Linked DNA regions of Homo sapiens: region 2 is linked to region 1. The links come from fine-mapping of genetic effects on gene expression. A gene starts in region 1. The other region holds a variant in brackets. All regions are shown on one strand. Distances are between the middles of the regions.

The links. PIP is the estimated chance that this variant, and not a neighbour inherited with it, causes the effect.
Region 2: its variant is the best candidate, but not a certain one, in a credible set for the expression of INF2 in whole blood (INTERVAL, PIP 0.66).

Annotation. Positions count from the first base shown.
Region 1 is chr14:104,686,453-104,691,954 of GRCh38, reverse strand. INF2 (inverted formin 2) reads right to left here and starts at 2,337. Exons shown (of 23, transcript NM_022489.4): 1 at 2,216-2,337. RefSeq lists silencers at 1,824-1,873, 1,964-2,203, 2,224-2,313, 2,414-2,673 and enhancers at 2,366-3,355, 3,356-4,343.
Region 2 is chr14:104,731,056-104,736,055 of GRCh38, reverse strand. ADSS1 (adenylosuccinate synthase 1) reads right to left here. Exons shown (of 13, transcript NM_152328.5): 2 at 934-1,036. LOC124903396 (a long non-coding RNA gene) reads left to right here. Exons shown (of 3, transcript XR_007064365.1): 3 at 915-1,488. Among named protein-coding and RNA genes, the nearest start is that of ADSS1, 9.3 kb to the right of the region's middle. The variant G/A (reference allele first, on the strand shown) is at 3,065.

The sequences.
Region 1 (5,502 bases):
TGCTCTCCTGGCCTGGTGGTTGCCAGGGTATACCGGCACTGGGCTGGGGGGCAGCTGTGTGAGCAGACCTCACCCCAGCTCAGGACCCAGGCTGTCTGGGTGCTCAGAGGCAGACCAGGCAGGACTCTCCCTCCTAGGGTGAGGCTGGCAGGAGTGGAAGCCTCTCTAACAGGGGGCCAGGTGGTTGGACCCTGCTCACCCCTCCAGCGACGGGGAGCCCGTGCCCCTGCCCTCTCTCCTTCCCACCGTTGGTAGAACTTAGTCTTTGACTTTAGGTGTCCACTAGGCCTGGGTCTGCTGTGGCCCCTGGGGACCACCCTCCAGAGACTGGCTCCTATGTGGCCTCCACCTCCCGGCCTTCCCGTCCACCATCCTGAAAACAGAGGTGGGTGTGCCTTCTCCAATGTAATGTGTCCACTGGGCCATGAACCACACACCTATCAGACACCTGCTGTTTGCAAGATGGAGGTAGGGGAGGGGCTGGCAGCAGGGAGTCAGGTCTCATTCCTGACTACAGGGAAATTTGACCTCCAGGCACCAGCAAAAAGCCAGGGGCTTGAGCTTACTTCACTGTCCCCGTCCAGAGCTGGGCCAGCTGCGTCCTGCCCCACACCCACAGGCAGCACCGCATCACTTTCCAGTCACCACCCACCCCTCCCGCAGCCTGCATGAACCGCATAACTTTTCCAACCCAGGAAGTAACTGCACTTTGATGGAAGGCGCAGAGTCTATTTCAGGTAGGAGCTTCCACGTCCCCACATGTGCGGTGTGTGTCATTCGCTTGACAGCCGTCAGCTCCTCCACAAAGTGGGCGCTCACCTGAAGGTTAACTCAGGAGCCCTGGCTGTGGAGGCTACAGTCGCACCTGGCCACTTGGTCCGTCCCCACTAGCGACATCCCCTTTGCCGGGCTGCAGGGCCCATGACAGTCCAGGGATGGGAGGGCAGGGCCTGGGCAGGGCCCACTGCACCAACCTGGCTTTTAGAACAGAAAATTGCTGCTGCCCTGGTAGGGGTGGGAGCAGTGTGAGGTCTCAGACCCCAGGCCTGGAACCCAATGCTACTATTTGCTGCACTGGGGGCTGAGCACCGACACCCCAAAAGCCCCTGGCTGGGTGGCACCCTCGGGGTCTGAGGCACTGCTCTGGGACCCCACCTTCCCAGTGCAGGGCGGCAGGGAGCAGGTCCCAGCCTGAGCTGCTGTCCCACCCTTCAGAGTGCAGATGTGGAAACTGAGGCCGGAAGAGGGCGAGTATCCTGCTCCATTCCAGTGCCAGACGGAGGGGCAGGGCTGGCAGTAAGGGAATTTCCTACGTCCAGCGCCTTCTGGGTGTGCCTGACCTCTGGCCCGGTTCCTGGGTTCCTGGTTCCCTGCCTGGGCAGGGTCTCTGCCTCTCTGCCTCCTGGTGTGTCCAGCTGGAGTGGGCAGTAATGCTGTGGTCACAGCTGAGCTGCGGGAGCCCTGGGTGGGGAGCTTGAGCCCCAGAAGGCCCAGACAGACAGACCACCCCCCACGCCTGTGCTCCCCAGGGGGCATTGGGGACGGTCAGGGACACAGCTGGTCACCCCGCCTTCCCCTCCTTAGTCATGGTCACTCCTGGGGCGACTCCCCAGTTAGAGGGTTGACGGGTGGGTCTGGGGGCGTACAGGGATTGGATCCTACCCCACCCAAAAGGAACAGAGAGCTGTGATGGAGGCTGATTCCCCTAAGCCTGCCAGCGGTTGCGGGGTGGGAAGGGCTCCCTGTGCGCCCACCTGCGCGTGGGCAGCTGGAAGCCAAGCAGTCAGGGTGGGGCCGCAGGCCGGCGCGCACCTCGGGGTGCCACCCGGGCGGCGGACCCGAAGTTGAAGTTTATTTTCCCAACTGTGGCTGATTCATGGTCAGGATGTGGCAGCCGCGAGGCGCGGAAATCCCGCCTGCCCTGGGAGTAGGCCCGGCCGACCCTGGGCCCACCACTCTGCGGCCAGTGCGCGCTCGGGCGGTGCCTCGGCGCGGAGGACCATAGTCCCGAGCGGGGCGCGCGGAGCCGGGGGGGCCAGGGGCGCCCTGGGGTCCCCGCCCGGGAACTGTACCCTGCGCCGCCGGACCGCCCGCCGCCACCTGGGCACACACGCCGCAGCCCGGAACCTCGCTCCTGGACCCAAGCACGCCCCTGCCTCCTCCCGGACTCAGTTTCCCCTGAAGCTCCAAGCGGACCCCGAGGCCAAGGACTTACCCGGTGAGGCAACGGCCAGAGGGCGGTGGTGCGGCCGGCGCTCCGTCCGGGGCCGGGTCAGGGGCTGCGGGCAGCCGGCGCCCACTGCCGCGCTCCGCAAGGCTCGGACGGTGGCTCCTGGCGGGCGCGGGGCGGGCGGGGCGGGCGGGAGGAAGAGGAGGTGCCGCCCCGCCCGTCAGCGGCCACGTGGGGAGCGAGCGCGGGCCGGGGGCGGGGCCTGGGGGGGGAGGTGGGTGGCTGGGGGTGGCCCCGCCCACTGTGGCCGGTCCCTGAGGGCGCTTTAAGGGGTCTCCCCACTCCCGTGAATAACCTGGCCGCCCCCTCGCGGTCCCTGCTGGCCTGGCTCCTGGTGGGCGGAGATGGGGGTGGGACGCGCAGATCGGGGCCGTCTCCCGCCTCAGCCCCCACTGTCCGCCCCGTCCCTGCCCTCCACCGCCTCCCGTCCACCTACACCCCTATCCTCCGGTGGGACTGGCCTCCCAGGCGCCGCTCACCTCTCTCTGCCCCGGCCCGGGACTCCCGTTCCAGCCAGCCGGATCCGGAGTCCCCGCGTTCGGGGATCCCTCAGCAGAGATGGCTCTTCCCAGGCTTTGGGGAGAGAGAGCCTACCCATCAACCAGGCCACCCATGTGGCCTCCTCTCCGCAGCCCTGCCTGACCCCCTTCCACCCTTGATGGGGTCTCGGCGGTCTTGGGCAGCCGCACTTCGCCGGTTGGTGGAGACAGCTGCATGAGGGCCGCGGAGGTGTCGCAATGGGGTGGGTTTTCTCTGCCACCCCTCTGCTGTCCGGCCTCATCTGTCTCCTAGATTGAGGGGGGCACCCATCCCCCCACCGCCGACATTGACCAGCATGGGGCGTGCCCATAGTCGGCTCTGAAAGCCAGCCTGGTTGGATGAGAGCCAGACCCCAGCTCTGGAAGTCCCTTCTGACGTCTGACCCTCAGTCAGAGCTGCAGGAAGCAGCGCACCAGGCCTGGGGTTTGGGGGCCACTGGCAGCTAGAGGGAGGGCAGAGGAAGGCAGGCCTGGGGGAGCCCCCGTGTGACATGTGACAGAGCAGACACAACCCCTGCCCTGAGAACCGGCGCCAGCACTCCCTGTGCGGCCTCAGGCTCGGATATGACTCTGTGGAGCCTCAGTTTCCCCATCTGTAAAATAGAATAAGTACCCGTAAGGGCTGTATGAGGGTCAAGAACATGCGGATAAAGTGTCTCCACTCGGAGTCCTGACATCTCTCTCCGGAGGGCCTGCTGTGTGGGCCGTGGCGGCCAGGGCTCAGGGTGAGGGCGAGGGGAGAGAAAAGGGCTCCTGAATGGCTTCCCAGCCCCGATGCAGCTTCTGCTTTGAGGCCAGCTGCGTGTCCTTTGGCTTTGGTGTGCCTCCGCTCCGGTGGGGATAAGCGCCGAATTGCAGGCTGCGTCTGTCTGCTCCCTGTGCGGACCTTGCCCTGCCCAGCAGCCCCAGCCCCGGAAGTTTGCTGGCTCAGCCCCAGTGCAGGAGCAGCTGCAGGCCACAGCCCCGGGTGTGCCTGAGGAGCCAGCCAAGGCAGGCGCTCACTGGACACCCTCCAACCTGGGCGGCCGCTGCTCCTAGACAGGCACTCTGCAATTCTTGGAATGCACCTGGAAGGCCGGCCTCCGGCCCTCCACACCGGGCTCCAGGGCCCCTTCCAGAGCAGAAGGCCTTCCTGCCCTCCCTCAAGCTGGGCTTTGGGTCTCCTGGTGCACTCCTGGACCCGAACATTGGTGCCTGCCCTGGTACCACCCCACCCTGGAGGGCACGGGCGGGGCTGACTCATCTGCGTTGGGAGCTGATGCCTGGCAGCGGTGCTGGGCAGTGGGTGTGTTTGTTGATCCAGTGAATGGAGGAATGTGAGGAGGTTGGTGGGGAGTGAGCTTTGACCTGCAGCCCCCTCCCCTGTCCACCTGCCTGGGGGAAAGTCAGAGTCCTGAGCCTTACTCAGAGGCTGGAGTAGGAGGTCAGGTGTGGGCGAGGGGTCCACCTTTCCTGCCCTGATGGGGGAGGGAGGCCCAGCGCCCCCAGGGCCGCTCCTGCCTGGGGCTGTCTCCCTTGCACCCAGTCGTGCTTCCGAGCTGCACACCTGGTCCAGAGAGGCCAGCACAGGCCGGAGCAGGGTGAAGAAGGTGGGGTGAATGTGATTTAGTTGGAGAGAGGTTGGAGAAGTCCCTGGGGTCGGCAGGGAGTGCAGAGGAGGGCTTTGGGCCCTGATTAAGAGTGTGTGTCTGTGTGTGTGTGTGTGTATGTGTGTGTGTGTGTGTGGAGTGGAGGCCGAGGTCAGAGGTCTGGGAGGGTGGAAATGTGGACACTGAAAGGGGGTTTTCCGTCAGGCTTGAACCCACCATGCCCGGGGCAGCAGGGTTCAACCCGGCTTGAGCACTGATTTTCTGAGACATACAGAGGCCCCCTCCTCTTCTCCTTCAGTGGCTCACCCTCAACCCTCTGTACCTCCAGCGCTCCCAGACTCCATCCTGGCCCTATTCTGAGCTTGCTTCCTGGCCCTGGGGTTGAAGAGAGGACCGATTTGGCCTCAGAAACACACCACCTGCAGCCACTGCCTGCGGCTTCCGGAGCTGCTTCCTGGAAGCCATGGCCTGCCTGGAGCCTCCCCTCCTGGGTGTCGGTCCTTCCTCGGAGCCGGGTACACAAGTGCCGGCCCCCAGCTGCAGGTACCCAGATGCCTGAGAACAGGGTCGTGCAGGTACAGGCTGGTACTGTGACACACCCAGGCGGAGCCACATGTTCCTGGCCACTGGCACAGAGTGCAAGAGTGGCCCTGCCACTGTAGGCCTGTGGAGAGCTTGCCTCTGCCTCTTGCTGGAAGATTGGGATGAGGGGAGAGCAGGCCTTGGCACCGACAGCTTGAGTTCTGCTAGAAACAGGCAGGCAGGTGTGGGCGTTCTGAGAGAAATCCTCCCAGCCTGATGTTGGCGCCGCCGTGCAGTCAGGACAGCCCTGCATGCAGCAGGCGGCCACTTGCAGGCCCAGAAGGGCTTCCTGGGGTCCACCTGAGCAGCAGCCTGGCCATGGGTTCATTTCCTTCATCAGTTCAGCACCCAGAATGCTTTTTATCTTTTTTCCCCTTTTGAGATTTTATTTTGCATCCTACTGTGGTGCCCTGAGATGATCTCTGACATTGTTACAGAATGAAGTAAGTGAAAACATGCCTGCTCACCCATGTCCACCCACCTTGCCCACCTATGTACCCATTCACCCATTCATCCATCCATTCCCACACACACCCACACTTCATCCGTCTGTTCACCCACC
Region 2 (5,000 bases), 44 kb before region 1:
TGCTCACATTGAATGGGTCCAGGCCCATGCATCTGCTGGGCACACACCTGAGGCGCCTGACCCCCACTTCCTGACGGGCTGGGAAGGGGTCAGATACATCACAAGGATGGCCTTGCTGAAGTCTGGAAACAGCTGGAAGGGAAAGTACAAGAAGGGGCCTGGCTGGCTTGGCCACTGGGATCAGGAAAAGCTTCTCTGAGCAAGGGGGTTTTGGGCTAAGAGCTGAGGCCAGGGTGCACAGAGCAGGCTTCTGACCGAGAGAAGGAGGGAAAGAGCCACGGAACCCTGGGGACAGAGGTGGCTCGCCTCTTGGAGCACTGAGTGGTCACAGGTGGCTGCAGGGGAGGAGCTGTGTCCGGACCCAGGAGGGGGCAGGCGATGTGGAAGGAGGTCCCTCTGCAGCACGGACTGGGAAGGGGCTGGAACCAGGCCTGCCACGTGGCCACAGCAGCCCAGGCAAGAGGACGGCCACATGGCTCGGCAGGGCCGGGGAGGGCACGGCCTTGTCCACACAGCCTGGTCGCCACGCAGCGAGAAGCCAGGCCTGTCGCAAGCACATACTCACTCACAGGTATGCACATGGAGTCACGGGCACATGGGCGTGTGGTCTCCATGCCCACACAGGAAGTATGTGCATGTGAGGGATCAGGGATCAGGGATCAGGGATCAGGCACTCCCGCTCCTGCGCGGTGGATGTGACTCTGCCCCTCCTCCCATCAGCCCTGTGTCCTCTCAGCTGCGTTCCCAGCCCAGGCCCGGGCTATGCAGGTTTCTGTGCACCAGTGCCTGGTGGGGCAGGTGGAGGCTGGGGTCCAGCCTACTGCTAGAGCAGTCATCACCAGGCTCTGGTGCCCCGTGCCCCCATGCGTGGGGCTCCTGGGCTGGCTGACACCCCCTTTCCTGCTCACACACAGGTCGGGGCAGGGCACTCACCAATGAAGGACACGGCCTTGGTGTTGATGATGCCGCTGGGCAGCAGGTGGAAGTCGTACTCTTTCCCATCCACCACCACCGTGTGGCCGGCGTTGTTGCCCCCCTGGAACAGAAACCCGGCTGAGCTGAAGGCACTTGGGTACTGAGGACCCCCCGGACATGGACTGACCCACATGGGGCTTCGTCTGTCCCTGCAGGGCACTGCTGTTGGATTTTGGGGTGTCTGGTTTGGTGGCCAGCTCTGATGCGTCTGTGCGGGACTGGGATGTGGGCATCCTGCACCTTGGAAGGAGGGCAGCAGTTTGGTCAGGGGCCTGGGTCGGGGAGGGTCTGGCCCAGGCTGGTGCCAACACCTCCAGGTGGCTTGGTGCAGGTCTCTGCAGCTGCGGGCCCCGCTCTGGAGCTCGCTCCTCTCATGCAGGAATGAGGAGGCCTAACCCTCCCACAGAACATGAATTCAGCACCCCCACGGCCAAACCTGCCCTCACCCACTTTAGCAGAAACCCTTCCCTTTGGGCAGGCACCTCCCGTCTAAGAATGAAAAAGAAAAAGCCATTCTGAGCCAGCCCTGTTCTGGGAAACACCCAGCCACAGGCTCCCCTCTCTGGGGGGATTCCTGCTGATGGTGGGGAGAGGGCCTGGGACTAGCATGTGCAGGCTCCAATCCCCCTCCTGCCATGAGACAGCCACATGATACAAGCAAACTGTGCCACGCCCTGGATGCCACTGCCTTCGCTTCCCCAAGGGCCTCTTGTGCCAGTGGAAGCTAGAGGATAAGCTAGGGACCCTCTCCAGGTGGGGCAAGAACCAAAGCCCTCCTGCCTTTTGCTTGGCTCTGCTCAGCAGGGCACAGGTCCAGTGGGTGTCCCCTGCTGCCCCCACCCTCTGCTCCTGCAGGGCAGGTGGGCTGGTGGCATGATGGATACAGGGACACTCCAGTCCCAAGGCACGGCTGATAGGGCTCCCCTACGTGCAGGCAGGAGGCCCCGCTTCACAGCTGAGGAAGAGGCAGCATCTCTGATGGCCCATGATGGCTCATTGCCCCTGAAGCCAGGCCCCCACCAACGGCAAGGGATATCCCTACAGCACCTTTTGGTCTTTATGCCACCATAAGAGACCCCTGTAGGCCCAGTGTGACAGAGCCTGGAGGGAGCCCCAGAAGGTCTCTGCCCCAGGAGAGAAGGCCAGGTCTCCAGCCCCACTTCTGGCCAGCCACTGGATGGCATGGGGGACCCTTCCTGTTGCCCTCTCTCCTTGAGCTCCACCTGGAGGGTAAGCAGGGTCCCGGTGGGGTTGCGGGGGGCCACACACGGATACCCTGCCCCACAGACTGGTCTGGTCTCTCCTTCACTACTTCCCTTTTGGGGCCCACTCTGTCCCCAGGACCCCAGAGCCCAGATCCAGCCCCACCTTCCTGCCTCACCTCCCGGCAGAAAAGCCCTCAACTTGTCTACGCATGGGGGATTCTCCCAGCCACACCCCACTGCTCTCTGCCCGGCAGAGGGGTCTCAGCTCCCCTCCCACCCTCACAAGCCTGGCAGTGGGGTGTCTCACATAGCCTTTCCCCGCCTGCCCAAGCAGGACCCTCCGTGATGGCGGCCCCCTCCCTCTGCACTAGCTCCTCACGATGCATCTGGACAAGAGTTACACGGAAACAGCCCCGGCGCCTCGTGGCAGGGCAACCCTGGGGACAGAGGGGGGGCAGATCCAGAGATGCCAGGCAGGGGGCTCACCCTCCTGGGACGTAACTTCACACACTGGCAGATTAGGCAGCACTCAGAGCCCTGAAGCCCCTTCGCAGGGCAGGAGTCCCCACCTCCACGCCCTGACTTCTGCCTGGCCCTGCCTGGCTGGGCCCAGTCCTTATAGGAAACCAGTTCAGGACAGTGGCTCTGGGCGGGGCGGTGCTGGGTGAACTGGGTGGGGATCCTGGGAGGTGGAGAGATGCAGGAAGCCTGGTGGCAGGAGGGAGGGTGGTCTGAGGGCACCTGGAGGCCTTGTGGGAGCTAATGCTGCCAGGCGCCAAGGCAGGGTGGGGGTGGAGGGTCAGGGTACTTCTGCAGCCTGGGCGGATGGGCAGGGCTCTCAGCCTGTGCTGCTCAGCAGACGCTGAGTCAGCCCTGGGCGCACA[G/A]GTTCAGTCCATCGGGACGGGGCAGGCCCTGGCGTGACTCGAACAGATTCTGGGTTTGGGGGTCACAGCACCCTCCTGGAGACCCCCACTCTTACTCTGTCCTTGCCTCGGCACATATGTGGTAATTCCTCTCCGCTGGGGTCATGGAGTACCTTCATGCCCACGACTGCATCTGCTGCCTTTTGGGGGCAGTCAGGGGTGAGGTCTCTGAGGACAGGTAGGGAAACTGAGAGAAGGGAAGCCTATCCCTTGTACACAGCCCCGCCTGGGCGGGGGGGCAGGCGTCGAGGGATGACCTGGCAGTCAGGCCAAGTGCTGCCTACCATGGCAGAGTGCCCAGTGCCCACGTCAACAGGCCCAGGAACGCCCTGCTAGGCACACCCTGGCTCTGTTGGGGGCAAACACAGGCTCCTAGGAACAGGCGCGGCTTGTCGTAGGCCAGTGGGTGTCCAATGACCGCAGGGCCAGTGCCAGGCCACCCCTGGGAGCAGGAGCCAGCTCAGGACGCTGAGCCTGGGGCCTGCTGATCCGCAGGGGCTCCCAGTTCTGGGGAGCCCAGGACGATGGCCCCAGAGAGACACCAGTCTGTCCTCCCCATCACCAGTTGAGGTCTCAGGACGTCAGGCTGCACAGGCACGTGGTGAGAGGCTGGGGACAAGAAGTCCTCCTGCCTTTCCTCCAGCTTCAGCCTGGGATTCCCACAGCAAAGGCATCCAAGGAGGGCTGGACAAAGGGGAACAAAGGAAAACTGGTACCGTCAGGCTGGGGCTCTGCACAAAGGCAGAGCCTTCAGGTCCAGGCCAGGGTCTGCCTTGCCATGGGAGCCACCAGCCAAGGCTGACCATGAGGCTGGCCGATGAGGAGGGACCAAACATCAGGGCCAGCCTCGCCTCCTGGAGAAGCACCAGGACCTTCTTTTGGAGCTGCCTTGGGCTGCAGGTGGACGCCAGGCCTCTCAGCACGGTGTGCAGGGCAGTCCGGAGGCTGCTGCCCTCTCACAGGGCTTCCTCCTCTTGCACAGACGCACTGGTGCCTCCAGCCCCACCGGTCTCCCTCTTCTCCTTTCCTGGCCCCTGCTGGCCCAGTAGATGGGTCCATGGATCCTGCTGCAGGGGGCCCCTCAGGGTCTGCTTGTTCCAGGCAGCCCGGCCCTGAGCCCCGAGTCCTGTCACCATCCCCCCAGTGCCGAGCCCCCAGGGCAGCCGCACTCACTCTGTCTTTCCTGCCTCATGGGGATAAGTGATGGGCAGAAGAGCCAGGGCGAGTGTGTGCCACGGGACAGCCCTGCTCAGGCACGGCTCCCACCACAGCCCCTCAGGCCAAGCTCCAGGGTCCCCACGTCCAGCCGGCAGGCCTCTCTGCCAGGCACCCCTCGGCTGCCCTGCTCCTCTGAAAGCAGAGCTGAGGCACCTGAGCTCTGGGAAGGCCATGGGCACATCCATCCTTCAGCCACCACTCAGGGTCCTCTAGGGGCTGCAGAGTCCTGCATTTACCTAAGATGCCCACTGCTGCCCCTACAGGTGGAGAGGAAGCCCAGCCCTGCTGCTCCTAGGAAAGGAGCCCCCTGCATGGCCAATGGGCTGAGCCACATGCTGTGAGCTGCCATGGACAGTCACCCATGTTGCACACTGCACAACTCTAGGGGGTGCTGTCACAGAGCCATGGCATGAATGATGGCGCCTAGAGGTGTAGCAGCTGCAGGGCCACATCATGCCACCTTTCCACTGTTTGCCAGGTCAGGGACAGTAGATTAAGGTAAGCGCCCAACTCTCAGAAGCACAGTGATGCAAGGGTGCGAGTGAGAGAGACGATATGAAGATGGATGGTGCAGAACACCTGCCTTGAGTGACCTGTACCCAAAGGCTCAGACCAGGCTGGGGGCCCAGAGTTAGGGGCACCAAGGGAGCCTGGTGGCCCCCTGGCGCTCTCTACCTGC